Linked DNA regions of Homo sapiens: region 1 is linked to region 2. A link means that fine-mapping ties the variant in region 2 to the plasma level of a protein whose gene starts in the linked region. Region 2 holds a variant in brackets. A gene starts in the other region. All regions are shown on their reverse strands. Region 1 holds the start of CLPS (colipase). Region 2 overlaps FGL1 (fibrinogen like 1).

The links. PIP is the chance, under the fine-mapping model, that this variant and not a neighbour inherited with it causes the effect. The UK Biobank Pharma Proteomics Project read protein levels with antibody pairs (Olink). The fine-mapping took linkage between variants from a reference panel, not from the people measured, so its PIPs are less certain.
Region 1: CLPS starts here. The variant in region 2 is fine-mapped to the plasma level of the CLPS protein (UK Biobank, PIP above 0.99).

Annotation. Positions count from the first base shown.
Region 1 is chr6:35,786,233-35,800,864 of GRCh38, reverse strand. CLPS (colipase) reads left to right here and starts at 3,542. Exons shown (of 3, transcript NM_001832.4): 1 at 3,542-3,660; 2 at 5,012-5,134; 3 at 5,588-5,883. The coding sequence starts at 3,577. The coding sequence ends at 5,719. CLPSL1 (colipase like 1) reads right to left here. Exons shown (of 3, transcript NM_001010886.5): 2 at 13,745-13,867; 3 at 12,715-12,998. The coding sequence ends at 12,855.
Region 2 is chr8:17,866,502-17,881,306 of GRCh38, reverse strand. It overlaps FGL1 (fibrinogen like 1), which reads left to right. Exons shown (of 8, transcript NM_004467.4): 4 at 6,786-6,945; 5 at 7,191-7,288; 6 at 12,303-12,391; 7 at 12,572-12,759. Among named protein-coding and RNA genes, the nearest start is that of FGL1, 22 kb to the left of the region's middle. The variant G/T (reference allele first, on the strand shown) is at 12,747.

The sequences.
Region 1 (14,632 bases), not on the chromosome of region 2:
GGAGGCTGAGGCAGGAGAATGACTTGAACCCGGGAGGCAGAAGTTGCAGTGAGATGAGATTGTGCCATTGCACTCCAGGCTGGGCAACAGAGTGAGACTCCATCGAAAGGAAGGGAGGGAGGAAGGAAGGAAGGAAGGAGGGAAGGAAGGAAGGAAGGAAGATTTAGAGCAGGCAGAAAAGAAAAATAGAGAAAAAGATGACTTAGGAATTCTATAGTTTGCAGGTCAACCTTAGGGCTCTTTTTCCTTAATGTAAATGTGCACAAAGACCACGTTATTTCCATTTTACATAAACTTTGTCAGGTAGAGGTGCCATAAAAGCTACGGAGTGCTCAAAAGGGGGTCATTTTCTTTGTTTTCTCCTCATTCTGAAACCACCTTTGCAAAATTATGACTGAGACAGTGAAAGAGATCTAACTTAAGTGACTCCATCTTGTTTCTAACCTCCAAGCTGTCCTTGTTCATTCCTAGGCGTAAGCTGAACTAACTTTGGGAGAAACTTAGTTTATAGTTTAAACAAAGACAGTAACAGCCCTTTCCCAAAGCTGACTTCATTCTTGCCTGGGGACTAGATTGCCTTTGTAGGACTAACATTAGCCACAAGATTAGAAATTATGGTTTAGGAGTCACGCAGCTGGAGGCTACAAGATCCTGATCCTCCCTAAACTACTCCTAAGATCAGTGCTTGAGATATTTTGCTGACCCTGCACTTGATGGATCAGCTGGCCCCACCCAGATCAATAAACTGGCTCATCTGATCTTGTGGCCCTCACCCAGTAATTGACTGGGTGCACGAAGACAGCTCTGAGTCCCTATGATTTCATCTCTGACCAATCATCACCCCTGGCTCACTGGCTTCCCCCCACCCACCAAGTTATCTTCAAAAACTCTGCTCCCTGCTGGGCATGGTAGCTCATGCCTGTAATCCCAGCACTTTGGGAGACTGAGGCAGGTGGATCACTTGAGGTCAGGAGTTCAAGACCAGCCTGACCAACATGGTGAAACCCCATATCTACTAAAAATACAAAATTAGCCGAGCATGGTGGCACATGCCTGTAATCCCAGCTACTCGAGAGGCCGAGGCAGGAGAATCACTTGAACCCAGGAGGCGGAGGTTGCAGTGAGCCAAGATCATGCCATTGCACTCCAACCTGGGCAACAAGAGCGAAACTCTGTCTCAACAGCAACAACAACTCTAAAACTCTAGTCTCCTGCACCTGCACAGCCGGCTCTGCATGAAATACTCTTTCTCCACTGCAATTCCCCTGTCTTGATGAATCGGCTCTATCTAGGTAGTGGGCAAGGTGAACCCCTTCAGTGGTTACATCCTGAGGGCTGTGTCACAGGCCATGGTTGCTCATATTTGGCTCAGAATAAATCTATTCAAATATTGTACAGAGTTTGACTCTTTTCATTGACAGGTACTTAATTTTTGCTTTCCTTTTAGAAGCACATACAGTGTCAAAGTTCTCTTTGCTACACTTCATTTGTAATGGAAAAAACTCCAGCCTTTTTTCTTTGCAAGCTTGGCTGAGACCAACTAGGGACAGGGCTGATGGTTTTCACAGCTCCCTTCATGGAGAGAAATCACTCCTCTGATTCCTTTGCCAGTCTCCATCTTGACTTGTGAGAAGGGAATAGTGATTCCCTTCTCTGTGGCTCACCTCACAGAGGTCCTGGGGGTGGGGAGCAGGTAGAGAAAAGAGAAGGAAGGATCAGAGTGAACTCATAGGAAAAAGTGCTTTCAAACATTGAGTTCTATAAAAGAGAGGGGGGATAGTGTTCTTTCATCAATGGTATTTCTGCATCGCTGGAACCAAATTGGTTTTTCTCATTTTGAGAGTCTCCTGGTTGTTCCTCCAGCTATTTCTCTACATTCCACACCCCAGGGATGTAAAGGTGAGAGGAAGGGGGTCATATTACATGGCTGGGCACCCACCATGTGCCAGGCACTTCCGAAGGTGTTCCACGTGCATTGTCTTAATCATGACCTCAGGAAGTAGGAGGCGTTATCCCCCTAAGATAAATAAGGAAAGTGAGGTTCAGGGAGCTTCACTTTCAATAATGTGTCTGAGGCCACGTAGCTCCAGTAAATGCTGAATTTTGAAGCCAGCTTGGTCTGGATCAAAGCTGTGCTTGAGGCTGGGCACAGTGGCTCACACCTGTAATCCCAACACTTTAGGAGGCCGAGGTGGGAAGATTGCTTGAGCCCACGAGTTTTAGACCTGGGAGGCTTAGGGGGAAGATTGCTTGATCTCAGGAGGTGGAGGCTGCAGTGAGCCAAGATGGCACAACTGCACTTCGGCCTAGGTGACAGAGTGAGACCTTGTCTCAAAAAATTAAATTAAATTAAATTAAAAGCTGTGCTTGAGGCCTGGGCCTCTCAGTGGAGCTGTCTTCTACCTCCTGGGATGGAGAGGGGAAGGGCAGGGGCCTCTGGCTGCCATGACTAGTCCTTCAGGAAAAGCTGCTCTGTTCCCATGCCTGAGCAAACTCAGGCAGCTGTGCCCTTCCCAGCTTCCTGAGGCCCCTGCTCCATCTGAGGCTCATGAGACCTCTTCATTCTCAGCCAGGACTAGCGACTGCTCACGCGCGCACGTGGCCTTGGGTAGGGGGCAGCGTGAGTGGAAACCTTAACTAAAGGGGTGAGTATCTGATGCTGGAATTGCAGATAGTAAGTGAGGTAGAAAGGAAAGGGGAGAGAGGCATTTAGGAAGGGCCTCCTAAGGGCCCTTGAGTCAGGCCTGCAGGCAGCCCCTGGTGTGAGGGCAGGGGGAGGGTGCCAAAGTGAAAGCACACACACCCTGGCCTGCTGGGGGTTGCAGAACTGTCAGCCCCAGGGATCTGGGCATGGCCTGGAATCCCCCGAGGAGACTGAAGGAAGGTTGAGGGGTGGGAGGCTAGGATCCTCGTCCCTGGAGTCTGACACTGCTAGACACCTGGGCTTGGGTGGGCCAAAGGCAAGGCCTGACTATAGTGAGGCAGAGAGGCCCCAAGTACACAGAATGTAAGCAGGCACTCACACCATAGGTGCCTCTCTTGCCTTGGATTCGTCCAGGCACTGCCCAGGAGCTCAAGACACAAGGGCAGCCACCCTTACCCACTGCTTATGTGGCATATGGGAATATACAATATAAATATATTCTTATAATTGTATATAATAATGTTTATATATATGTAACACATAAATGTGTATTAATTCAACCCTCACAACTCTTTAAATTATCCTTAGTTGACAGATAAGATGAAAGGCAGAATAGTTGGAACAGATAGTAAGTTTGCCTCACTAATAACTTGTACACAGTCCATACTCTTAACCACGATGCAACACAATTATCACCAACACACACACACACACACACACACACACACACACACACACGAAAAAGGCCACCAGGTACTCACCCAGTTTCCTTATCAGGAACCGCCCCACAGCAGATTGGCCACAGCTGTGCCTCTGCCCACGGCCAGCCCTGTGGGATGCAGGTGGATCTCGTGAGGTCAGGGCCCCTTTTATAGCCCCATCACCACAGCTGGCTCTGTCTCCCGCCACCCACACCAGCTGTCCCACTCACCATGGAGAAGATCCTGATCCTCCTGCTTGTCGCCCTCTCTGTGGCCTATGCAGCTCCTGGCCCCCGGGGGATCATTATCAACCTGGTAAGAGGGTCTTCAGGGGAGGCGCCTCCTGAGTCCCCAGATGAAGACTTCCTAAGCTTGGACCTTGACCTCTGATGTCTCCACCTGGACTGGCAGGGGCTGGGAGGAGTGGCATCTTGCATCCCTCTGTTTACTTCCATGTCCTGTCCTATGCCTCTTCCCAGAGGCCACAGGAAAGGCTGATCAGCCCCTCTCCAGCTCCAACTGGAGCATGCTCAGAGCAGCAGCTCAACCTGGCTATGAGGGACCTTTTTTTTCTTTTTTTTCTTTTTGAAACGGAGTCTTGCTCTGTCACCAGGCTGGAGTGTAGTGGCACAATCTCGGCTCACTGCAATCTCTGCTTCCCGGGTTCAAATGATTCTCCTGCCTCAGCCTCCCAAGAAGCTGGGATTACAGGTGCCTGCCATAACGCTCAGCTATTTTTTGTATTTTTAGTAGAAATAGGGTTTCACCATGTTGCCCAGGCTAGTCTCAAACTCCTGACCTCGTGATCCGCCCACCTCGGCCTCCCAAAGTGCTGGGATTACAGGCATGAGCCACCTCACCTGGCCCTACGAGGGAGCTTTGTAAAAATCCAGAGCCCTGGGCTTCCATCCTGAGAAAATGCTTTGCGCCAATCATTCCAGCTTCTGACTTATGGAGATGCCTCGGAGATGTTTACTCATTCTGTTCTCATAATAACCACTGAGGGAGGTGTTTTCAGAGTCAGCCCTGTCTTCAGACAGAGAGAGGGTGAGCAACCTGCCTGAGGTCACATAGCTGGAAAGTGGTTCAGCTGGGGCCCCACCACTGCCCCACACCACCTCTCCACCATGGGTCTTGGCTGGGAAAGCCCTTCCAGAACGTCCATGCGGTTGAAAGGTTCTGAACTCTCTTAACTTGGGGCCATGGCTGGACTTGGAGGTCCAGGACCCTTGGAGATTATAGATCAGATCTGTTGGGGGAGGAAGGAGTCTTGCAGGGAGATGCAATCTTCACCGCCTCCTTAAAGAGGTGTGGGACCCAGAGTGGTTTGGAGAACTTGTCTAGGGGCCTTGTGTGCACATTCCAAATGGGAACACTGAGGCTTGGGAGGCAGTGACTTGCCCAGAGTCACACAGGAGGTTGGTAGCACAGCCGGTACTAGAACCCAGGGGTCCTGACCCTCTGTGCAAGTCTGCTTCTCTGTCACCGCATGCCCACTTCTCACGTGGGTGGGGGGCACAGAGGCCACCAGACCCAGGGGATGGACTCCTTCACACACATCCCTACCAGGGGAGACACTGTTAGTGGTAGTGTGTGGTGGGTACAGGTCTGAATGGAGAAGGGACCTGAGGGAGTGGGGCCTGGGCTGACTGGCTGCTCCTGGCAGGAGAACGGTGAGCTCTGCATGAATAGTGCCCAGTGTAAGAGCAATTGCTGCCAGCATTCAAGTGCGCTGGGCCTGGCCCGCTGCACATCCATGGCCAGCGAGAACAGCGAGTGCTCTGTCAAGGTGGGTGCCTGAGGACTTGGCGTGGGTGGGGGAGAATGGGGAGTAGGGCCCTGAACACTTGTGAGTGGGATCAGGGAGGGGGGTCAGCCTGGACACTGAATGTTGAGGAGACGAGAGGGAGGTCGACAGGTGTCAAAGCACTTTCCCATCCCATCATCTCTCTTGACCCTCCCGAGTGACCAGTGAGATGGGTGGGGGTGGGGATTTGTTATCCCCATTTCATGGCTGGGTAAATAGAGGCTCCCCAGAGAGATCAAGCTAGTAAGAGCAAATGAGCCAGAGCAGAGGTCAGAGCTGGGGTCTCCAGGGCCCACGGCACCCCTGGGGAGGCAGGTGGGAGAGGCACTCCCCGAAAACACAGGCTGGCCTACTGGTTCTCTAGGTCAGGCAGGGGACAAGTGATGTCCAAAGTATCTCCCCATAGCCTTGACTCCATTGGCTGTGTCTCTGCAGACGCTCTATGGGATTTACTACAAGTGTCCCTGTGAGCGTGGCCTGACCTGTGAGGGAGACAAGACCATCGTGGGCTCCATCACCAACACCAACTTTGGCATCTGCCATGACGCTGGACGCTCCAAGCAGTGAGACTGCCCACCCACTCCCACACCTAGCCCAGAATGCTGTAGGCCACTAGGCGCAGGGGCATCTCTCCCCTGCTCCAGCGCATCTCCCGGGCTGGCCACCTCCTTGACCAGCATATCTGTTTTCTGATTGCGCTCTTCACAATTAAAGGCCTCCTGCAAACCTTTCCCAGTCTCCTGCATATTCTTTCTGACTCAGCATCTTCTCTGAAGTTGCATCAGGCCTTTGGTCCACCAGGGCAGGCTTCAGGCAGGTCAGAAGAACAAGGGATGGGTCTGGGGCTGAAGAAGTTGTGGCCAAACAGATTGGAGACTGAAGACAAAGCTGTGAAGGAGACCCAGCCAGCCTAGGAAACCCTCCATTTCTGGGGAGAAGTCACACCTACCTGGGATGCCCTCCTTGTCCCTCCGGTTCTCAAAGAGACAAGCGGGCACATGTGCATGCGCGCGCACATACACACACACACACACACACACACACACACACACTTGTGGGTAAGGAGTTTTAATGGCCCATGTTCGTCACCCTGCATCAGAGGCATCAGAATCCTGGGCTCTCACCTCTTTTCTGGACACAATTCTCAAATATGACAGCTAGCTGACACAACTCATGTGTTAAGGGGTCAGACCACTCTCAATTGCTATGAGCTTACTCTCTGCCAGCAAATGCTCACAAGGATCCCAGGAGGGAGAATTTCTCATCTCCACTTTATAGATAGAGACCAAGTTTCAGAGAGGAGCTTGCCCAATGTCACATAATCAGAAAATGTTGGCACTCTACCATCTAACTCCACTGCCCTGCTTCTATGATTCCTTTTTTTTTTTTTTTCTGAAACAGAGTCTCTCTCTGTTGCCCAGACTGGAGTGCAGCGGAGTGATCTCTTGGCTCACTGCAACCTCCACCTCCCAGGTTCAAGCGATTCTCCTGCCCCAGCCTCCCCTAGTAGCTGGGATTACAGGCGCCTACCACCACGCCCGGCTAATTTTTGTGTTTTTAGTAGAGACGGGGTTTCATCGTGTTGGCCAGGCTGGTCTCAAACTCCTGACCCCAGGTGATCCACCACCTCAGCCTCCCAAAGTGCTGGGATTACAGGTATGAGCCACCGTGCCCGGCCTTATGATTCCTTTTTCTTTCCCAATTATTCGCATTAAGAAAAATGGGTGGAAACTGCAAGGAATTTAATTTTGCCTTAATATAAAAATTGTATATCCCCTGGAGCCATCAAACATGAGTTACCTTAGGCAGTACTGAGGTGCCCATCATCCAGGTACGCAGGTGGAAGCTCACTGACCCCTCGGTGGAGATGCTAGAGAGGAGATTCCCACAGAGAGTGAGGGACAGTGAACTGAATGAAACTTCGATGTCGTCCCAGCCCCAGGATCTTGCAGTTCTGTGATCAATGAATCCTCCTGTAACCACAGGCTTATGAGTTAGGATTGCATTCAACTGTGAGTAGCAGAAAAACCCAAGTAATTATGGCTGAAGCAAATAGGAACGTATATTTCTCATGAATCCAAAGCAAAGACACAGGAAGTGCTGGCATTCTTTTGGTGGCTGGTAGCTCTTGACCTTCTCTTCAAGGTTGCCACATGCCTTAGCAGCAGCTCATGACTTCACGTTCTCACCGTATTCGAAGGCAGGAAGCATGGAGTAGCTGGCAGCTGGGAAGGCGGGAGAAGGAGCAGAGAGTTTCTTCTTGCATACCCTTTTTTTTTTTTTTTTTGAGACAGAGTTTTGCTCTTGTTGCCCAAGCCAGAGTGCAGTGGCACGATCTCGGCTCCCTGCAACTTCTGCCTCCTGGGTTCATGCGATTCTCCTGCTTCAGCCTCCCAAGTAGCTGGGACTACAGGCGCCTGCCACCACGCCTGGCTGATTTTTTGCATTTTTAGTAGAGACAGGGTTTCACCATGTTGGCCAGGCTGATCTTGAATTCCTTACCTCAGGTGATCCACCTGCCTCGGCCTCCCAAAGTGCTGGGATTACAGGCATGAACCATGGCACCTGGACCATACCCTCTTCTTATCTTTCCTCAAATCCTCAAGGCCGACTTCTCTTCATATCTCAGTGGCTAGAACTAGGTTATCTGACTACTTCTAGCTGCAAGGGACGCTGGGAAAGCAAAGGGAATAAGATCCTTCTCCTGGGGCCAGGTTCATTGATGCCCAAACAATATTGGGTTTCAGTTGGCAGGGAAGGGGGCAATGGCTATTAGGAAACCAGGTAATGGTGTCTGCCACATATGAATTATGTGCTCAACAAGAGGAGCTTTCAATACCTTAACCCAGGAGGGGTCTCAGGCCCTGAGCAGGGCTGAGTCACGCTTCTTGGTGCCACATTCGGTCCTGGAGATCTGCATTCATGTCCCCTTCATGTGTTCACTGAATGACCACAGTGTGCCTGGCACCGTGTTTTGGACTGTGGGGGGCATAAGGAAAATGTCCCTGGTCTTCAAAAGTGAGTAGGGAGTTGGGCTTTGGGCTCTGCAGAAGCAAGTGACCAAGACCCCAACCATTATGTAGCTTCCATTTTATTTCCAACGGCCAGTGCTCCTGTAGACTCTCAATTTCTGCTGCTTTTCAGCATCACACGCCTACACAGCAGAGGCACAGTCTAACCACAGCTCAAGGAACCAGATGGTCCCCACTTACAATGGTTTGACTGACAATTTTTCAACTTTATGATGGTGCAAAAGCAATATGCATTCAGTAGAACATCAATAAATTACATGAGATATATTCGACACTTTATTCTAAAATAGGCTTTGTGTTATTTTTCCCAGCTAATGTAAGCATTCTGATTGAGCACATTTAAGGTAGGCTAAGCTAAGCTATGATATTCAGTAGGTTAGGTGTATTAAATACTTTTTTTTTTTTTTGAGACAGGGTCTCACTCTGTGACCCAGGCTGGAATGCAGTGGCATGATCATGGCTCACTACAGCCTTGACATCCTGGGCTCAAGTGATCCTCCCACCTCAGTTCCCCAAGTGCTAGAACTATAGGCGTGTGCCACCATGCCTGGCTAATTTATTTATTTATTTATTTATTTATTTTTGTGGCGGGGGGAAGATGGAGTCTGTCTCTGTTGCCCAGAGTGGAGTGCAATAGTGCGATCTCGGCTCACTGCAGCCTCTGCCTCCCAGGTTCAAGCAATTCTCCTGAATCAGCCTCCCGAGTAGCTGGGACTACAGGCACATGCCACCACGTCCAGCTAATTTATTTATTTATTTATTTATTTGTATTTTTAGTAGAGATGGGGTTTCACCATGTTGCCCAGGCTGGTTGCGAACTCCTGAGCTCAGGCAATCTGCCCACCTAGGCCTCCGAAAGTGCTAGGATTATAGGTGTGAGCCTCCATGCCCGGAGTTAATTTTTATATTTTTAGTGGAGATGGGGTTTCACCATGATGCCCACACTGGTCTTAAACTCCTAGGCTCAAGCAATCCGCCCACCTCAACCTCCTAAAGTGCTGGGATTACAGGCACAAGCCACCACACCTGCCCATTAAATGTATTTTCTTTTTCTTTTTCTTTTTTTTTTTTTGGAGACAGAGTCTAACTCTGTCACCCAGGCCGGAATGCAATGGCACGATCTCGGCTCGCTGCAACCTCCGCCTCCCGGGTTCAAGTGATTCTCCTGCCTCAGCCTCCCGAGTAGCTGGGATTACAGGCGTGCCCTCCACGCCCAGCTAATTTTTGTATTTTTAGTAGAGACGGGGTTTCACCATGTTGGTCAGGCTGGTCTCGAACTCCTGACCTTGTGATCCGCCTGCCTCAGCCTCCCAAAGTGCTAGGATTACAGGCGTGAGCCCCCGTGCCCGGCCTATTAAACGTATTTTCAACTTACGATATTTTCAACTTAAACAATGTGTTTATCAGGATGTAGCCCCATCGTAAGTCAAGGAGCATCTGTACTTTATTCCCTACAAATCTCTCTGGATTCTGACAACGGCAGCCTCTACCAATGACCACTTTTCCCATAGGGCAGCGGAATCCCCATGGCTTGTGAAGGGGTCTAGAGAATGCCACTGAAGCATAAAAATTATTCTGAGCAGAAGGCATTTGAAAATGGGCCTTTTTCTTTTCTTTCTTTCTTTTTTTTTTTTTTGAGACAGAGTCTTGCTCTGTCACCCAGGCTGGAATGCAGTGGTGCGACCATGGCTCACTGCAGCCTCAACCTCCTGGTGCTCAAGTGATCCTCCTGCCTCAGCCTCCTAAGTAGCTAGGACTACACGTGCGTGCCACCACCGGCTATGTTGCTGTTGTTGTTTGTTTTCAGACACAGGGTTTCGCAATGCTGCCCAGGCTGGATGAGAATAGGCTCTTTTCTGAACTCCTTTGTCTGCCTAAATGCAGAGCCCTGCAAAAGAGCTCCATTGTCATAAATCCCCCTCCCAGGAGTTTCTCAAAACCAGGGAAAATTGACTTATTGCTGGAGGGGAGAATAGTTGGCACCACACCTAAACAGTCAGGTCACGAAACTATAATAGCTCCCATCTTTTCTCCTAAGGGCCCATTCATCTTTCCTAAAAATTACTTTTCTATAAGTGTCCTTTCTCCTCCTCCCCTTCTTCTATTGAGATGGTACATAACCCGCAAATTCTAACTTCCTTCTAGAGTCACACTCTTCCATGAACTTCCCTACATTCTGAATAAAAATCGGTCATTTCTCTTTTATCGGTTTAATTCTCAGGCCTTCAAGTACTGAACCTAAGAGGATAGAGGAAAAGTTTTCCTCCCCCAACACTTGGAACCAGTTTAGTCATGTCAGCAACGTATCTTCCCCAACTCCCTTTCTTTTTTGTTTCTTTTTTTTCCTTATTAGGCTAAAAACGTTTATTAAAAAAATTAACAACTTTGTTTTAAAGCATTTTATATTCCTGGATGAAAATATCCAATATTGGAAAAAAGTGAAATTTCAGCCGGGCACAGTGGCTCATGCCTGTAATCCCAGCATTTTGAGAGGCTGAGGCAGGATTGCTTGAGGCCAGGAGTTTGAGACCAGCCTGGGCAACATGGTGAGATCTCCCCCTCCCCATCTCTACAAAAATCTTAAAAATTAGTTAGGTGTGGTAGCGCACACCTGTGGTCCCAGTTACTCAGGAGGCTGAGATGGGAAAATCACTTGAGCCCAGAAGGATGAGGCTGCAGTGAGCTGAGATGGAGCCACTGCACTCTAGCCTGGGTGACAGAGTGAGACCCTGTCTCCAACAAAACAAAACCAAACCATAAAATTTCCTCAAATTAATTTTTTTTTTTGAGACAGGGTCTTGCTCTCTTGCCCAGGCTGGAGTGCAGTGGTATGATCTCGGCTCACTGCAACCTCCACCTCCCAGGTTCAAGTGATTCTCCCACCTCAGCCCCCTGAGTAGCTGGGACTGCAGGCATGCACCACCACACCCAGCTAATTTTTGTATTTTTAGTACAGATGGGGTTTCACCATGATGGCCAGGCTGGTCTCGAACTCCTGACCTCAGATGATCCACCCAACTCGGCCTCCCACAGTGCTGGGATTACAGGCATGAGCCACCGTGCTCGGTCCAGAGCTTTTCAGCATGTAGTCCCATTTGTTTATTTTTGCTATTGTTGCCTGTGCTGTTGGTGTCTTATCCAAAAAATCATTGTCAAGACCAATGTCGTGTAATAGTTCCCCTATATTTTCTTCTAGGAGTTTTACAGTTTTGGGTCTTATATTTAGGTCTTTAATCCATTTTGAGTTTATTTTTGTGTGTGCTATAAGGGTCCAATTCCATTCTTTGGCATGTGAATATTCAGTTTTCCCAACACCATTTATTGAAAAGACTATCCTTTCCCCAAGGTGTCTTCTTGGTGCCCTTGTTGAAACTTAATTGGCTGTACAGGCTTGGGTTTATTTCTGGGCTCTGTATTCTCCCCTTCCCCTTCTAACTTCTTGACATTGGGTATCCTTGGGAACTTCTTAGACATTGGGTATCATTGGGTTTCCAGCCTGCCACCTCTCCTTCCACGGTCATTTCATAGGTTTTCTCTGAATGGGGAGAGCTCACATAACACAATGGAAGTCTGGTTATCTGTCTGATACATTTAGTACAGGACAGCATATTCTACCAAGGTATGGTTCACATCGTTTTGCTATGACTTACAAGGGGGCGTTCTAAGTACAACCATAGTTTACCTCCAAACTCCCCAGCCCTTGCATCCTAAGCCCAACATCCTGGAGGGCATGTTTGGCTCAGTTCTGGTGGCTGAATGTGGAAATTTAGGTCCAAAATCTGAAATAATTAACTCCAAAATGTAACCTGAATATAACAGGCACTACTCACAGACAAGCGAGCTAGCATCTAACTCCAAAAGCCTCACCACACACTGAGACTTCCTAAAACTCCACTTGACTCATTCTCTCTCCAACCCCACACCACAGTCGCTGCTCCAGTCTTTCTTTCTCACTCTTTCCTAGGCTCTCCTTCCTTCCTTCCTTCCTTCTTTTCTTGTCCCTCTTTTCTCTTGCCTCCCAGAAGATTCAGATTCAGCACTTTCCAACTGTGTGACCTTGAACAAGTTGCTCAACCCGTTTCCCTACCTGTAAAACAGAGGTGATAACAGGAGAGACCCCACAGGTTTGTTGCAGGATTAAATGAGATCATGTGCATAAGGCAGCTAGAGCGGCCCCTAACATCTAGTAAGTGCTCAATAAACATCCTCAATTCTTTATACACATGGATATTTTGTGTACCTTCTTTCACATTTCTGAAATTTAAGGTCGTGGAACTGGAATATCAGGTGTAAACTGGGCTTCCGGGGGGTAGATTACAGAGTGGGCTGAAGGCAGAAAGGGGTTGGGGTGGGAAGGGAGCTTTGGTCTCTTCTGGGGGACTTTCATTCATGCCCCAACTGGGGAAAGACCCCAAGTCCAACAGTGTCCCTTCCTGCTTCCTCCCTCATATCACCTCCCCACCCCCCAGAAACCTGTACCATGCCCACCCCAGCCCAGCCCACCCAGGCCCCAACTCTGTGGGCAGCAAACATTGAAAAAGCTCTTTATTTCAATCACTCCCCACTTCCCTCCACTCATGGTGGAGGCTCTGGGGAACAGGGTGAACACAGAGCTCTGGGTAGGGAGGAGAGCAGGTGGAGGAGGAGGAGGCAGCAAGAAGGAGGGAGCACTAGAAGAACATTTTCTTAGCCAACTTCTGCCTTCCAATTTTCTGACAACGGCCATAGGCGATGCTAAGCCATTTCTCATTCTTTGAATATATACAAGTCAGGTTCCGCAGGCAGGGACACGCTCTATATTGGCCAAAGAACACCTGGGAAAGACAGGACTTTGACCTCGACCTTGGCGGCAGCTCTTCCCTGAGCCCCTAAGCCCAGCCCAGCCCAGCTCCAGGGCCCATGTGCTTGCCCACAGCCAGGATCCAGGGATAAATGATAGCTTGCCAGCTGCTCAGAGTGGCACCTCTGGCTGCCTTCTCCAGGCTGGCTCCTGGATTGTTCAGTGTCCTCCCAGCTCCAGACCTTGTAACCCTGCCTGTCACTGACCCATCTGCCTGTCCTAAGTCCATGGACACACCATCGCAGGACCTCTATGTCTTGTCTTTAAATCCTTCCATGGGCAAATCAACTCCCTCCCCTACACACCCAGCTCAGAGGCTGCCTCTGCCCATCCTCCACCAGGAACACCCGGGGCCACAGCAGAACTCCTGAGCTGGATGAAGACGGGGCTCTGGGGCAGAGGCTGGACCTAGCTGTGCCCATTTACTGTACTACTTTCGGAATTTGCTGAGAAGACTCCTGGAGAATGTGAACCCACATTAGAAAGTGAAACATCGCCTTCCCGCCCCAATCCAGGATTCCAAAACCCTAGGGTGGGCTACCATATTGGTTCCGTCCACAGGCTCCCCCAGAAGGCTTGGAGGTGCAGTCCCACGGGGGAATTCCAGGCTCCAGGGCATTTCCGCCCACCTACCCTTCTTTCCTCCCCAGGAATCTGGGCCCGCCCTGGCTCCCACTTCCCCTGGATCCCCTCTGGCTCCCCCCGGGCGGCGATACCCACCTGCGTTTGACACAGACTGCCCTCGGACCCCTTCTCCGCGCAGTGCGACTCGCAATTGTCTGGAGCACGTTGGCAGCAGCCAGTCTCGCAGTCCTGGTTCCGGATGCAAGACTCCTTGAGCTCCTGCAGGGAGGGACACGGCACCGCCAGGCTCCACCGCCCGCCTTCCGCCCTCGCCGCCCCGCCTGGGGCTTTCTCCCTACGGGGCTCCTCCCCAGACTCTGCTCCCACCATCACCTCTGGCTCCTGCCAGGCAGGGTGGTCTCTACGTGGGGGCCGGGGTAAGTCTGTGCAGACGGTGGATGCCTGGAGGGGACTGAACAGTTTTTAAAAGGTTTACTCTTGGTGTCCTCAACATAGGCTGCTTCTCATACACACCAGAGTGGTCTAGACTTTCCTGTCTCTCTCTTGCACTTCATTCTGCTGCAGAGCCTTCTCGCCCCAAAACTCATACTCACCCTTTCACCTGTGCCTGATGGTCACCTACATGCATTCCCACCGCCCCTCCCCCTACACACATCAATGACCTCCACCCAGCACTGGGGCTTAGGACAGTAATTAACATTATTGATCACAGCCACCCATCATCTCTGACAATTTCAATAGTCATTCAACAGGCAAATACTGAGCACCTACTGTGTGCCAGGCACTGTTCCAGGCACTGGGAATACAGCTGGGAACAACAAAAACAGAAATCCCTGTCCACCTGCAGCTGACATTCCAGAGCAGCACTGTCCAACAGAGCTTCTGCAGTGACGAAAATGTGCTTTTTCTGCCCAGTCCAATAGCCACTAGCCACTACTGAGCACTTGAAATGTGGTAGTGCAACTGAGGAGCTGAATTTAAATTTTCTTTTCTTCTTTTTTTTGAGATGGAGTCTTGCTTCCA
Region 2 (14,805 bases):
AAATTAGCTGGGCGTGGTGGCAGGTGCCTGTAGTCCCAGCTACCTGGGAGGCTGAGGCAGGAGAATCACTTGAACCCAGGAGTCGCAGGTTGCAGTGAGCCAAGATCGTGCCACTGCACTCCAGCCTGGGCAACACAATAAGACTCTGTCTCAAAAAAAAAAAAAAAATCCGTGTACACATGGCAGATTACAATTGGGAATTTTTGCATTTGAGCTTTGTGTTTGTGTATCTTTCCTTGTTGCATGTATGCAGTTTTCCCTTCTGAAATCCTAATGTGCATTAGGGTGGCAAATAAGGTAAAAAATAAAGGAGCAGAAAAAGGAAAAAGAACCAGAATTACTAAGGAAAATAAAAGAGTAGTTTTTTATATGTATATTTTCTGATTTCATAATGTTCCTTTCAATGAGGTATTTCTCCCCAGAAACTAAATGATTTTAAACTGGCAACACATTACACACATTGCTGCACAAATCATTATTCTCTATGGAAAACTGTTCACTTGAATTCCTCCAGAAGTAAAAGGTATCTTTTAGAGTAAACGACGATTGTCAGAAACAAAAAGAATGCTAGCGAAAGCACTTTGTCCATATGTCTATTCTAGCACTACCATGCTACATTGTAATTTCTGTTTATGAGTCTATTGAGGTCAATTAACTGGGCACTCTGTGAGGTCTAGAATGATATTTAATGTACTTTTATCTCCCTGTTGGCTATTAGAGTGCCTGAAACATAGTAGATCCTCATATTCAGGAATGAAAGGAAGGTAGTTCATAGGGAGAGGAATAGCAAGATAAGCAAATATAAATTCGGACACCTATTTGACTAGAATTGAAAGACTGTAGAGGTCAAAGAGTTGCCAATCTTATGGGAATAGAAACATGTTTATTTTCTGCTTCTAATCATACAAGTGTAGGATATAGGAGTTGTGAGAGTCTATGCTTCCATAAAATGCTTCAGGGCACCTGGCTGGCTCACACTGTAGCGCATGAGACTCTTAAAATGCTCCCTTTTTTTCTACCAAGATCCTTATCTCCCTCTGCTCAGACTCCTCGCCCTGGGCTCCTGCTTCTCTTATGGCCAGCATCTTGATCCAACTGCCCTCCCTCTGGCCCTTAGAGATCAGAAAGAGGCCAGAGCCAGTGGTCTGCAGTAGTGGGGATGGCTATAGCCTGAAGATGGCCAGTGCCTCTGGAGCCAAGAGGAACCAGGGACAGTTCGGGTAAAAATGGGCTTGGGAAGCAAACGGACTATCGTTTAAGGGATGAGCATACAGATAAGTGATCCCAAAAGAACATACAAAGCTGATCTCAAGGGCGAGGAACTCGTAGATGCCAGTGGATCATCATTACTCCAAATTTCAAACCAAGCCCAAGACTTGGGGTTTCTATTTGAACACATTCTGAGCAGGTTATTGGCACAGACTCAAGGGTCAATCATGGCAGGGGGCAGCTAATCAGATGTTTGTTCCCAGGCCTCTACAACCAGTCATGGGAAGACTGAGGCTTAAGTGCTGTATTAGTCCGTTCTCATACCGCTATAACGAAATGAATGAGGCTGGGTCGTTTATAAAGAAAAGAGGTTTAATTGGCTCATGGTTCTGCAGGCTGTAAAGGAAGCATAGCAGCATCTGCTTCTGGGGAGGCCTCAGGGAACTTACAATCATGGCAGACGGCAAAGCAGAAGCAGGCACATCTCACATGGTGGGAACAGGAGAAAGAGAGGGAGGAGGTGCGACACTGTTTCAAAAACCAGATCTCATGAGAACTCACCACTCACTGTAGAGTACCAAGAGAGATGGTGCTAAAACATTCATGACAACTCCACCCCCATGAGCCAATCGCCTCCCACTAGGCCTTCCCTCCCACACTGGGAACTACAACTCAACATGAGATTTGGTGGGGACACACATCCAAATCATATCAAGAGCTGAAGATCCAGTCCTTGTGTTGACACTGCTGGGGAGCAGACTTTGGGAAGTAAGGGGTCACCAAGGAATAAGGCAAGAAATCAGTTACTTGGAAATTACGATGCCAAGGTCAGAGCAGGATTAACTGTACAAGCAGGAGTTAGAAGAGTCATATAGAGATGCTTCAGAAAAAACATTATAATTATTATAAATATAATACTGTTATAATAATAAGACAGATGATAGGAATTCTAGATGACTGTTTTTTGATATAAAAGCCAAAAAAATCAGAATTCAGTAGATTAAAACAATATTTTTCATATATTAATTACAAGCATGAAGAAGAAAAAGGGGAAATAAAATATAAACACAGTTCAATTGTTCTTTATATTTTAGCATATAGGGAGATAGTACTGGAGAGGCTACTAAGAACAGATACTCAATAAATAAAATATATAACATAAAAATTCCAATAAAGTATAGTGTTTTATATATATATAATATGGTATAAAATATATAAGAACTTGTTCACCTCAAAGTTTATGTTTTTGGTGTCCTTAAATTGAAAACAATTAAATATTCATACATATAATCTGTAGAAATATAAATCTTTTCTTCTTATTTACAAGTTACTTTATTATTACTAAATTAGTTATTTTCTGAATTCTAATTTATCTGATGGTAGAAAACACCCAATTACATACAACCTAGCAATTTGTGCAAACAATGCACTAGGCACATGATTTTCTACAGCATACTATTAAGCTGTATCTTTTTTTAAAGAATTTGGGTGCTAGCGGATTATGAATTAAAAGGTTACTGTGTCAAATTCACATTAACTGGTGGCAAGAACAAAAATCTGGCGTCACCACCGCCGTTCACTTGACAACACCACTGGCTCCAGCATCTCCCCTTCTTCAGGAGCCCCCAGTCTGCATGTGAGTGTCTTGAGGCAGGTTACAAAGTGGCCTAAGGTGTTGACTCTGGAGTTTGATTTCAAAGTCCAGCTGCCCATCTTGCTAGCTGTGGCCTTTGGGGACATTACATAACCTCTGTGTGTCCCATATTCCCCATCTGAAGAATGAGAATAAGAATGCTGTGTATTTGTTGTAAGGATTAAAATATATTCAAATGAGTGAAAATATTTTGGCCAGGTGCCATGAATCATGCCTGTAATCCCTGCACTTTGAGAGGCCGAGGTGGGAGGAACACTTGAGGCCAGGATTTCAAGAACAGCCTGGGCAACATAGTGAGACTCTAACACTATAAAAAAAAAATTGCCAGGCTTGGTGGTGCATGCATGCAGGCCCAGCTACTCAGGAGGCTGAGGCAGGAGGATTGCAGAAGTTTGGGGCTGCAGTGAGCTGACTGTGCCACTGCACTACAACCTGCCTGGGTAACAGAGTGAGACCCGTCTCAAATAAATAAATAAACAAAATAAAATGAGTTAATATATTTAACATCGTAGAGCAAAAGAAGTACTCAGTGAATGCCAGCTATCTATGGACATTATTATAGCCTTGTTTTCAAGGAAGAAAGCCTACTCACTCTACCCTACAAGAGTATCGCATTCTCTCAATATTAATTTAATTGCACATTTAAAAATAACAAAGAGAGCAAAATTGGATTGTTTGTAACACAAAGGATAAATGCTTGAAGGGATGGACACCTCATTTTCCATGATGTGATTATTATGCATTGCATGCCTTTATCAAAATATCACATGTACCCCAACAAATACATACACCTACTATGTACCCACCTTCCTTTATCCTTTTTTTTTTTTCCTTATGTTGCCTGGGGGTGAAGATGGCGGTAGCAGGGCCAGTTCTCGCATATCCCAACATGCTCTGGGGAGTGGCAGCTGACCTCTGTTGCTTACCTCTTTTTGTGTTTAGAATGTGGGGTACTTTGTGCCTTTGGTTCTCAGCTTTGTGCCTCAGCCACCATCCTGAGACAAGAGGAAAAAGCCCATTTGGCAGGCTGTCATGTCACTTTATGAGCTTAAACATTCAGCCTTCCAACATGGCTTACTTTCTGCATGATCAGAGAAAGGACACACATAACCCAGTTTAATACAGTGTTTGTCAAAACAGAAGGCAGGATGCCTTGGCCTCTGTCTAGTATTATGTAAATATTCAAAATTCTTTTTCTTTTTTAAAAAAAAAACTCCCATGAACACAAAGCTCTTTAACCTTGCCTTTCTTCTACCTATTCTCCAGGGAGTTGAGTGGGTCAGAACATTTTGAAAATCATCGTTTTAAATATCAAGTTCATATTTTAAATTCTACATTTTTCATACTTTCTGCTGTTACGATTTAAGTCTCATTTCCCAAAGCAGGCTTCTTAACTTGTTAGCTATAAGCAAATTGAACTACTGGTGCTTTTTTGCTTTTTTAATGTTTATTTATTTGTTGGGGGTTTTGTTGTTGTGTTACTGTTTATTTCAGTTAAAAGCTTTTCTTAAGTTGTGTTTGGCATTTTCTTCTGGGGAGAAGGAAAATTTCAAAAACAAGACCAAAGAAATAACAAACTCGCAGTTAGCATAAAATAATAACAAGTAGAAAATTTTGGCTGAAACCTCTATATTCACTAAGTTTTCCAGAGGCAAATGTTATAGCTAATCACTTCCATATTTGCCTGGAAAATAGTTTGATCCTTGTGAGTCTTTAGTATTCAGCTCTTTGGTAGGAAATTTAATGTAAGCAAAAAGCTTCTTTCCAAATAGGGCTAAAATCTGCTTACTTTAATAAAAGTGTTGTACTATATACTTGACTACAAGATGTAAACTTTATAACAACATTGAACTAATTTTAGATAATCATTTTCTCATTGTTTTGCTTCTTGTTTAATTGCCAAAACAGGATCCTTTTTATAATTTAGCATGTATATGAACGCATGTGCTTCTGAATCTTGAAAATAAATATATGAATAAAGCCTAAATCATTACAAAGGTAAACATCTCACCAAAGCAGGAGTATATGGTTGGTCCCAACCATGTGAAGGCTTTATAAAATGACTAAGGTTCTTTCTTTTCTTTTCTCTTCTGATGTCTATGGCCTATTCACCTACTTAATGTGCAATATATTTTATCTGTAACAAAACAAGAGAGTTGTAAATTTGGCAATCTAGTATCAAAACAATGAACATTTGTTTTTAAATCTTTAAACATCTTTAAAATATGCTACAAGAATGGAATTATCCAATAAGAAAAAAATTTTTTGTTAAGGAAATTAACAAAGCGATAAGGGTAAAAGTGAAAGTTGATGATGTTATAGTATTTTTATTCAAATGTTTGTAGACGGCTCTTCTTGAGATTGTTTATAGTGACCACTACTTCAATCATCCTAAAACCTAGCTTTCTATGCATCTGAACAATAGAGAGGTCCCCATTTGCCACGTTCTCTAAGTCTGTACAGATCAACCTAGGTGAGACCCAATGGGTATTAATTTACATCACCCTCAAGTGGCTTAAGGAACAGACATCACCATTTGGCAGGGTGTGGTGGCTCACACCTGTCATCCTTTCACTTTGGAGGCCGAGGCGGGCGGATGGCCTGACCTCAGGAGTTTGAGACCAGTCTGGCCAACATGGCAAAATCCAGTCTGTACTAAAAATACAAAAAAATTAGCCAGGTGTGTAGGTGCGTGGCTGTGATCCCAGCTACTCAGGAGGCTGAGGCAGGAGAATCGCTTGAACCCGGGAGGCGGAGGTTGTAGTGAGCCGAAATAGCACCATTGCACTCCAGCCTGGGCGAAAGAGCAAGACTCTGTCTCAAAGGAAAAGAAAGAAAGAAAGAAAGAAAGAAAGAAAGAAAGAAAGAAAGAAAGAAAGAAAGAAAGAAAGAAAGAAAGAAAGAAAGAGAAAGAAAGAAAGAAAGAAAGAAAGAAAGAAAGAAAGAAAGAAAGAAAGAAAGAGATATCACTTTTTGGTGACAAAGGGGTAGCTACATTTGCTTCAGTGTTCAAAGAAATACCACAGCAAAAAAGAATTAAGGGATGAAAAGAATAGCAGAAGCTTGCAGTTTTTAGCAAAAACATCTAAGAATGTATGGACTTTTAGAAACTTCAGTGGGTTAGTAAAAAATCTAATAAGGCTAAGAGATTATAAGATTTTGACAAGATTATGGGTGCAGCACACCAACATGGCACACATATACATATGTAACAAACCTGCATGTTGTGCACATGTACCCTAGAACTTAAAGTATAATAATAAAGATTTTTACAAGATTACTATTTTGGGTTCATTTTCAGATGTCCAGAATGATTTATCATGCTCTAAGTCAGGATAACCTGTAGTAACTTTGGTGTTAACATTTCTGCTTTCATTTTAGCTTCATGGGTGAGATAAATTTTACTATTCCGTCTGATAAAACTGTAAGTTCCACCTAAATATACTGTTATTAACAGACTACTCATAACTTGTTTTTTTTAAGATTGTTTTCTACAAAACTCAGAAATTAGAAACTAAGCTCACACCTGTAATCCCAGCCCTTTGGGAGTCTGTGGTGGGAGGATAGGATTGTTTGAAGCCAGGAGTTCGAGACCAGCCTGGGCAATATAGTGACACGCCCCCATTTCTTAAAAAAAATGTAAAAGAAAAAAGAAGAAAGAAACAAAAAACTAGATTCTTATTTCACTCCCCTTTTTTCCTCGATGATTATATCAAGGATTCAGGTGGCAAATTTTAGCAAAGGAAATAAAACTTTCCTAATATCCACTGGAAGATGTACAAGATGCAATTTTAAAACGCTGATTTCTATACCATGTGTTATCTGTCTCCAGTGATACTGAGTAGTCTCATTCAGAGGCTCCCTAAGGCGGGGGGAGAAAAAGACACATAATGAATGTTACATTACCTTGTTTTAAAAACAGATTGTTCAGAGATTTTCAATGATGGGTATAAGCTCAGTGGATTTTACAAAATCAAACCTCTCCAGAGCCCAGCAGAATTTTCTGTTTATTGTGACATGTCCGATGGAGGAGGATGGACTGTAATTCAGAGACGATCTGATGGCAGTGAAAACTTTAACAGGTGTGCTAATTATGATGTAAGACTTTATATGTAGCAGCAAATGTGAGATTTATAAGTCAAATATTTTGATCATATCCTGAAGCCTATTAATTAGACAGAATTTCAATCTCTCTAAAGAAGAATACTGAAAATGAATTAACTAATCAAGAAAATATTGGAGGTGGTGGTAGCAGGGGGTGGGTGGTGGTCGCTTTGGTACCACAAATGGAGTTTGCTCTAATCGGCTTCCACTTTACCTTTTTTAGAGGATGGAAAGACTATGAAAATGGCTTTGGAAATTTTGTCCAAAAACATGGTGAATATTGGCTGGGCAATAAAAATCTTCACTTCTTGACCACTCAAGGTAAGGTTTGAATGATGTCAGATTTATTTGAAATATAATAAAAACAACACTAAAATTTTTTTTTAACCAAATTATAGGCAATGGAACTAATTCAATAATTGCTATGATTTGCAGATGGCAGTGATAACTTTTGGGCAATAATCCCAAATGTAAAATGTGGCTGCCTAAAATTAGAAACAGAAAAAAAAGCTAGAATTGGGTTGCGGGGAATTGTTTTCACATATATATTTATGAGAAATATCTAAATATATTTATAGATATATATACATTCTATACATAGTATATATGTAGCTATATATAGATATATAGAATATAAGTCGCTATATGTATCTATAGATATATATAGAATATATATATATTCTACTTCTGAAAAGGATATATAATGTCATAATTATTCCTTTTTGATGCCTTGAGTTCCTGGAGATTATATATGCTGTATCAGTTACCTAATGTCACAATAATAACGTGTAACAATCCTCTTCCAAAGCTTAGTGGCTTAAAATCAACAACCATTTATTACTTCTCACAAATCTGCAGGTTGGCTGGGTGATTTTGCTGATCAGGGCTGGGCTCTGCTGATCATGGCTGGGCTTGCTTATGAGTCTGCCATCAACTTCCTCACTGAAGTTGCTGCTCTGGGATGGAAGGATTCAACCTGGCTCCATAGGGTCTCTCATCTTCCAGCTAGCTAGCCTGGACTTGTTTTTGTAGCACAGGCAGGGTTCCACAAAAAAGAGTGGATGTATATAAGTCTCTTGAGATCTAGGCCCAGAATTGGCATGGAGTCATTTTTCTTCTATTGGTGAAAGCAAATCACAGGAGCAGCTCAGACTTTTTTTTAAAAGGAAGTAAACAATAGGAGGAGCTATGAAGACATATTATGAGAGAGAGGTGAACAATTGGGCAATTGGTGCTATTTTTCCAATAAAACACTATAATATATGAAATGTCCATGTTTCCACATACATCTCATCTTTAATGCTGAAATTTTTTCAAAGCTGCAACCAATTTGAAAGAAGTTTCAACCTACCACCTGTATCCTACATTAACATTTTACTTTGCTTGTTTTTGTTACGTATCTATCCGTTTGCCCATTACTCAATCCGTCCATCAATCCATCTTTTCTGTATATATATTTCAAAGTAAATAGCAGACATCTGGATGTCTCCCTATATACTTTTAAATTCTTATCTTTAGAGTTTAATATTTGTCTAAAATATCATTGTTTTGATAACGACTTTTCCCAGCTTCTATCTCCCATGTTCTTTTGCTCCAATCCATTGTCTTCCCTACCTCTGTTGTAGTCTGAGATTATCATCAGTCCCACTCAAGTCTGATCCTGAATCCTTCATAAAAGGCAACTGTAATGCCCAAAAAAGCATGCTAAGTTACACTGCAATTGCATTAAAAATAAACAGCTGGGCATGGTGGCTCATGCCTGTAATCCCAGCACTTTGGGATGCTGAGGTGGGTGGACCCCTTGGGGCCAGGATTTCGAGACCAGCCTGGCCAACATGGTGAAACCCCATCTCTACTAAAAATACAAAAATTAGCCAGGCATGGTGGCACAGCACTGTAATCCCAGCCACTTGGGAGGCTGAGGCAGGAGAATTGCTTGAACCCAAGAGGCGGAGGTTGCAGTGAGCCAAGATTGCGCCAATCCACTCCAGCCTGGGTGACAGAGCAAGACTCTGTCTCAAATAATAATAATAATAAAGTAATTAAGATAAAACAAAAGTTCCTTTGTTCCATCCAAGTTCTGGAAAGCTATTGGTGTTTCTATATTTATAGTAGTAGGCTTATGGTTATAAAGTTCTTTGAGACACTAGAATGATAAACATTAGACAGGATGAGTAATCCTAGAAACCTTATACTTTCTTTGTATGTCCTTCTTATGATCAGTGCTCTCTAAATTTACATAACGCTTCCTTTCCTTCAACATATCTATTATTCTAGTTTTAAGTGTTTTATGCCAGATATATAAAATTTGCCATACCAACTTCTGTTTCATTTGCACATTGATATTTATCTGGTTTCTTATTGAAACTATGAAAACCCCAGAGCAGTAACCCTTGGCTCTTTCTAAATATATGAAATTCAAACGTATTATTTTTTAAGTTATTATGATGTACATATTTTCCCAGAGGAACTTTGCCAACAAACCTGTTCCTTTTCATATATCAACTTGGTACTCAGGCTGGCTAATCTCGTTGGAGAAAAAACGTGTTTTTCAGTTCCTGGGCCCCCACCCACGTATCCCATCAATCCAGACAATAGCCAGTGTTTTTGTCTCTGCATTCTTTAATTATGAGAGCATTACGGCTAATGAATTAATGAATTACCTCTGAGAATAGCTTTATCCCCACTACATAAATCTCAACTAGAAGTAGTGGCAATAAAATTGATTTAGAAATGGTAAATATAATTTGTTTACTTATTGAACAAAGAGACATTTCAATGTTAGCCAAAAAATTGAGTCTTTATGTCTCTGTTATAATAGAAGTTTTTTTTTTTTGTTTTTTTTTTTGAGACAGATTTTTGCCTGTTGCCCAAGCTGGAGTGCAGTGGCACAGCCTTGGCTCACTAAAACCGCTGACTCTTGGCTCAAGCAATTCTCATGCCTCAGCCTCCTGAGTAGCTGGGATTATAGGCGCACACCACCACACCCAGCTAATTTTTGTATTTTTAGTAGAGACGGTGGTCTCACCATGCTGACCAGGATGGTCTCAAACTCCTGGCTTCAAGTCATCTGCGTGCCTTAGCCTCCCAAAGTGCTTGAATTACAGGTATGAACCACCGCATCTCGTCTGTAATAGAATATTTTTAAAGACAGTTGACTTAGCCTGCCTTGCTGCTCTTATACACTCTACAGTCTTTTCTCCTGTGACCTTTACTACCTTGAGAGAGCTCCCTGGGGCAAGGAAATTGTGGTGCTAAATCAACAAGCCCAAGAGAGGCCCGCATCACCTCTTAAAGGGACTCCAGTCTTGAGGAATCCAGCATTCCCTGCCCCAACAGCCTTGAGTTTGTTTATAGGACTCCTTCAGGATGTTCTCGTCCTGGTGTGTGCACCCTTAAGCTTGAGGGGAGGCTAAAAAATGGCTTTTTTTTTTTGAGACAGAGTCTCACTCTGTAGCCAGGCTGGAGTGCAGTGGCGCGATCTCGGCTCACTGCAACCTCTGCCTCCCGGATTCAAGCAATTCTCCTGCCTCAGCCTCCTGAGTAGCTGGGATTACAGGCACGTGCCACCATGCCCAGCTAATTTTTGTATTTTTAATAGAGACAGGGTTTCACCATGTTGGCCAGGATGGTCTCGATCTCCTGACCTTGTAATCCACCCAACTTGGGTGTGAATAGAACTTGGATATGCAGCCTGGGATGTCCACAAGTGGATCCAAAGCCCCTTGCTATAAGTGATGGAGATGGGGATGGAAAGAGAGAAGAGGCCAACCAGAGATGGGGCCTAGGTGATAGGACTATTCAGGGACTCTCTTTCCCAGTGCCTCCATGGTCTGGCTTGAAACTCCAAGGAAAGTGAGGCTCTAAATTCTAACCCGACCTTACAGGTCATTGTTATATCTTATTTATCAAAGTAGGAGGATAGAACACATGTGATCTAATAATTTGATTTATAACATTTGGTGCCCCTGACAAGAGTTCTGTTTCTGAAAAAGGAATAGTCTTTGTTATTTCCAAACAATGGGAAAAAAAAGATTACTTGAAGGTAGCAATTATTTTAATCATTTTAAAAACATAATGCTCTTATATCGCCTAGAATTTTTACAGTCATTAAAGTATATCTTTAATGTTTAGAGATTTTTTGTCATCATATATCATTCTTTAGCATATATAAAAGATAATATGTACCCAATACATTGTATTCTTTTTTTTGTTTTTTTGTTGTTTTTTGCGACGGAGTCTCGCTCTGTCGCCCAGGCTGGAGTGCAGTGGAGCAATCTCGGCTCACTGCAAGCTCTGCCTTCTGGGTTCACGCCATTCTCCTGCCTCAGCCTCCCAAGTAGCTGGGACTACAGGTGCCCGCCACCATGCCCGGCTAATTTTTTGTATTTTTTAGTAGAGACGGGGTTTCACAGTGTTAGCCAGGATGGTCTCTATCTCCTGACCTCGTGATCCGCCCGCCTCGGCCTCCCAAAGTGCTGGGATTACAGGCGTGAGCCACCGCCCCGGCCCCATTGCATTCTTAAAATGCTTTCACATGTAGATATCAGTTCTTCAGAAATACCTTTTTACTCAGAGTCATTGATGTTAGTATATTTTCCAGTAATTATCATCATCTCTGCCATTGAGAATGTTGGTGGTACAGCATTTCTCCAGAATGTTTCCTTATTGCCTCTGAAATTCTCTTCCAATGACATCCACTCTACATACTTTGATGCTAAGAGTCTCTTGATCTTATGAGCCAGTATCAAACGAAGGTTTTCGGATAACAATTAGGATTCATATTTCTTCCTCAAATTATTCTTAAAGGGTTTCCTGGCTGATCTTTTATGCTATCAGGAAAATAACCAAGTTCAGGCATATGCAGGCAATGGCAACTACATTTTACAAACCTAGTGGCTCAGCTACTAGAGATTACACAATGTCATTAATAGCCACCATTTATATTCAAGATCAACATTCTTACTGAAATCAAGAAAAAGAGGTCAAACTATTAAAGGTAAAACGTCGACCCTTTCATTGTTAGATTGCTTTAAGTAATCACTTATTTTTTCTGTTGTTCATTATTCAGTGAATTGCACTAGGTTTTACCTCTAAGAGATCTAGTAGACATTTTTTAAATTTAATATTGTATCCATCATTTTTTTTCAAATAAATTACACGATAAAATGTTCATGTTATATATACAAAGGAGTCACTGTTTAATCTTTGAAAACTGATTCTTGGCCAAGGGAAATGGTAAAATTAAAATAGAGCTGTGAATTATTTTTAAACCGCAGTAGTCCGTGTCATGTCACACATTTTTAAAAATTATAATTGCTTGTTTCTTTTTTAGAAGACTACACTTTAAAAATCGACCTTGCAGATTTTGAAAAAAATAGCCGTTATGCACAATATAAGAATTTCAAAGTTGGAGATGAAAAGGTACTACAATTTTCTAAGAAGTAAAACCGTGAATAAATGCTTAAAATGTGCAATATAACCCTGGAGTCAGTGGAAATAAAAATATACAATAGAACCTGTTCTTTTGTTTATGAAATAAACTTAATTTTAAAATGGTCATAGAGGAACTCCACTGACAGCAGAAATGCCCTTTTTCTTTAGAATTTCTACGAGTTGAATATTGGGGAATATTCTGGAACAGCTGGAGATTCCCTTGCGGGGAATTTTCATCCTGAGGTGCAGTGGTGGGCTAGTCACCAAAGAATGAAATTCAGCACGTGGGACAGAGATCATGACAACTATGAAGGGAACTGCGCAGAAGAAGATCAGTCTGGCT[G/T]GTGGTTTAACAGGTTTGATGTCTTATGAGCATAGTTGTAATGGAGTTGATGATATCTCACTGATAGACATTAATTATCAATATAATATGTATGGTAATGTTAGTCTTTATTTATAATATTAGTATTATTAAGTAATCATTCTCATTAGAATTCTTCAGCAATGAAGTCGTTTTGAGGATTTGTTCATTGTGTACATTAGTAAAGTGTAAATGTCATAGAAATAAATTATTACTTTTACAAAGATCATTTGCAAACTGAATTATGGATGAGTTATAAATAGAAGGCCACAAATTCACACAAAGAAAGAGAGAGCATGTATATATATGGAGACTATTTGGCATCCTAATAACCAACTAGTTCTTCACCTGACCATATCACACAAAAGAGCCACCGTTATTGCTGTAATGCTTCTGTATAGTACTACTTTTCAATCACTATGGCTTTCATTAATTCATTGAGTCTAAGCCTCTCCCAATACAGAAATTTCCTTTACAATAATCCAGAAACCTAATTCTACCCTCTGACTGAATACATTCATGTTACTTTATCAGCAAATTCATTCCGTTTTTGATTGTATATAGTTGCTTCTTTTTTTACTGATACAAAATATTTTATATATTTCTGGGGTACATGGGCTAATTTTTGCATTTTTGGTAGAGATGGGGTTTTGCCATGTTGCCCAGGCAGGTCTCGAACTCCTGGCCTCATGTGATCCACCTACCCCGGCCTCCCAAAGTGTTGGGCGTGAGCCACCGCACCCTGCCGAATTCATAAGTTTTAAATTGCATGTCATTCTGAGCAGAGATTCGCACCATTGGATTCTTTCTGCCCAGGAGGTGGGTCACCCCTCTGTCTAGCGTATCCACGCTGAAAGCCCTCCCTGCCCCAAGACACTTAGTAGAAGTCTGAGTTATCAGATCCAGTGTTGGAGTTTCATAGTGCTCGTGTTCGAATCATGCTTATTTGATTTAATAATGGTCCCAAAGCACAAGAGCTGTAATGCTGACATATTGTTATATAATCATAATCTTTTATTATTAGTTGTTGTTAATCTCTTACTGTGTCTAATTTATAAATTAACTTTGTCATAGGTATGTATATTATAGGAAAAAACAGAGAACTACTATAGATGGTTTTTTTCCTTCCTACACCCAAAAGATTTTTCCCCCTAGCGTTCTGAAATTTTACAGTGACATACACTGTCGTGGTCTTCTTTTGGTTTACTGCAGTGGGTACTCAGTGGTTCTTTTGAATCTATATCATGTCTTTCAGTTTGGTAAATTTTATTTTCTTTATCTGCTCGTTACTCACTTCGTAGCTGTTTCGGTTATCAGACTGAAAAAGCATAGTATCAATATATAGAATTTGGTATTATCTGTAGTTTCAGGCATCCACTAGGGGTCTTAGAACGTATCCCCTGCAGATAAGGGAGTACTACTGCTGTTGTAAAAATAGTCATCTTTTCTATATTTTGCTTTTTTAAAAAAACATTTGAGTCCATTTAAGATTTGATCATTTATAAAGGAACTGGAGTATTTCCAGCAGTGTGAAGGAGAGAAACAAATTTCACTCTCCTGCTTTGCAAATTGAAGGTGATGATGGTGTTTTCCTTAGTGGTTTTCCTGTTATTTTAAAAACCGTCTTCTTCACCTGTTCCTACTCCTTTCTTTCCCCCTTGTTCTTCTAAGTCAGCATGACATAAAACTTAACGTGTAATTCATGAAGTCATCTGCAAGCATCACCAATGTTTGATTTTGAAAACAATTCCATATACAGAAATAATTACTAATAGTATCCTGAGATCAAAACCATGTACTTTATCCAGCTGACTGGCTTCTAAGGCATCTGAATGAAAACTACCATGTATATTAATGTGGGCAAAGGAACGATTTACCTGACTTTAAAGAAATGGGTTCAGGGAGCACAAAGAAAGGCCATTCATTAGGTGGAGCCTGCCACAGAGCCCACATTATCCTTGGAATCAAAGGGGTTGATAAGGCTGTGCAATTGGAAAATCAGTAGGCATTAAGGGAGAGAAAGTAGATTGTTTTAGAAACT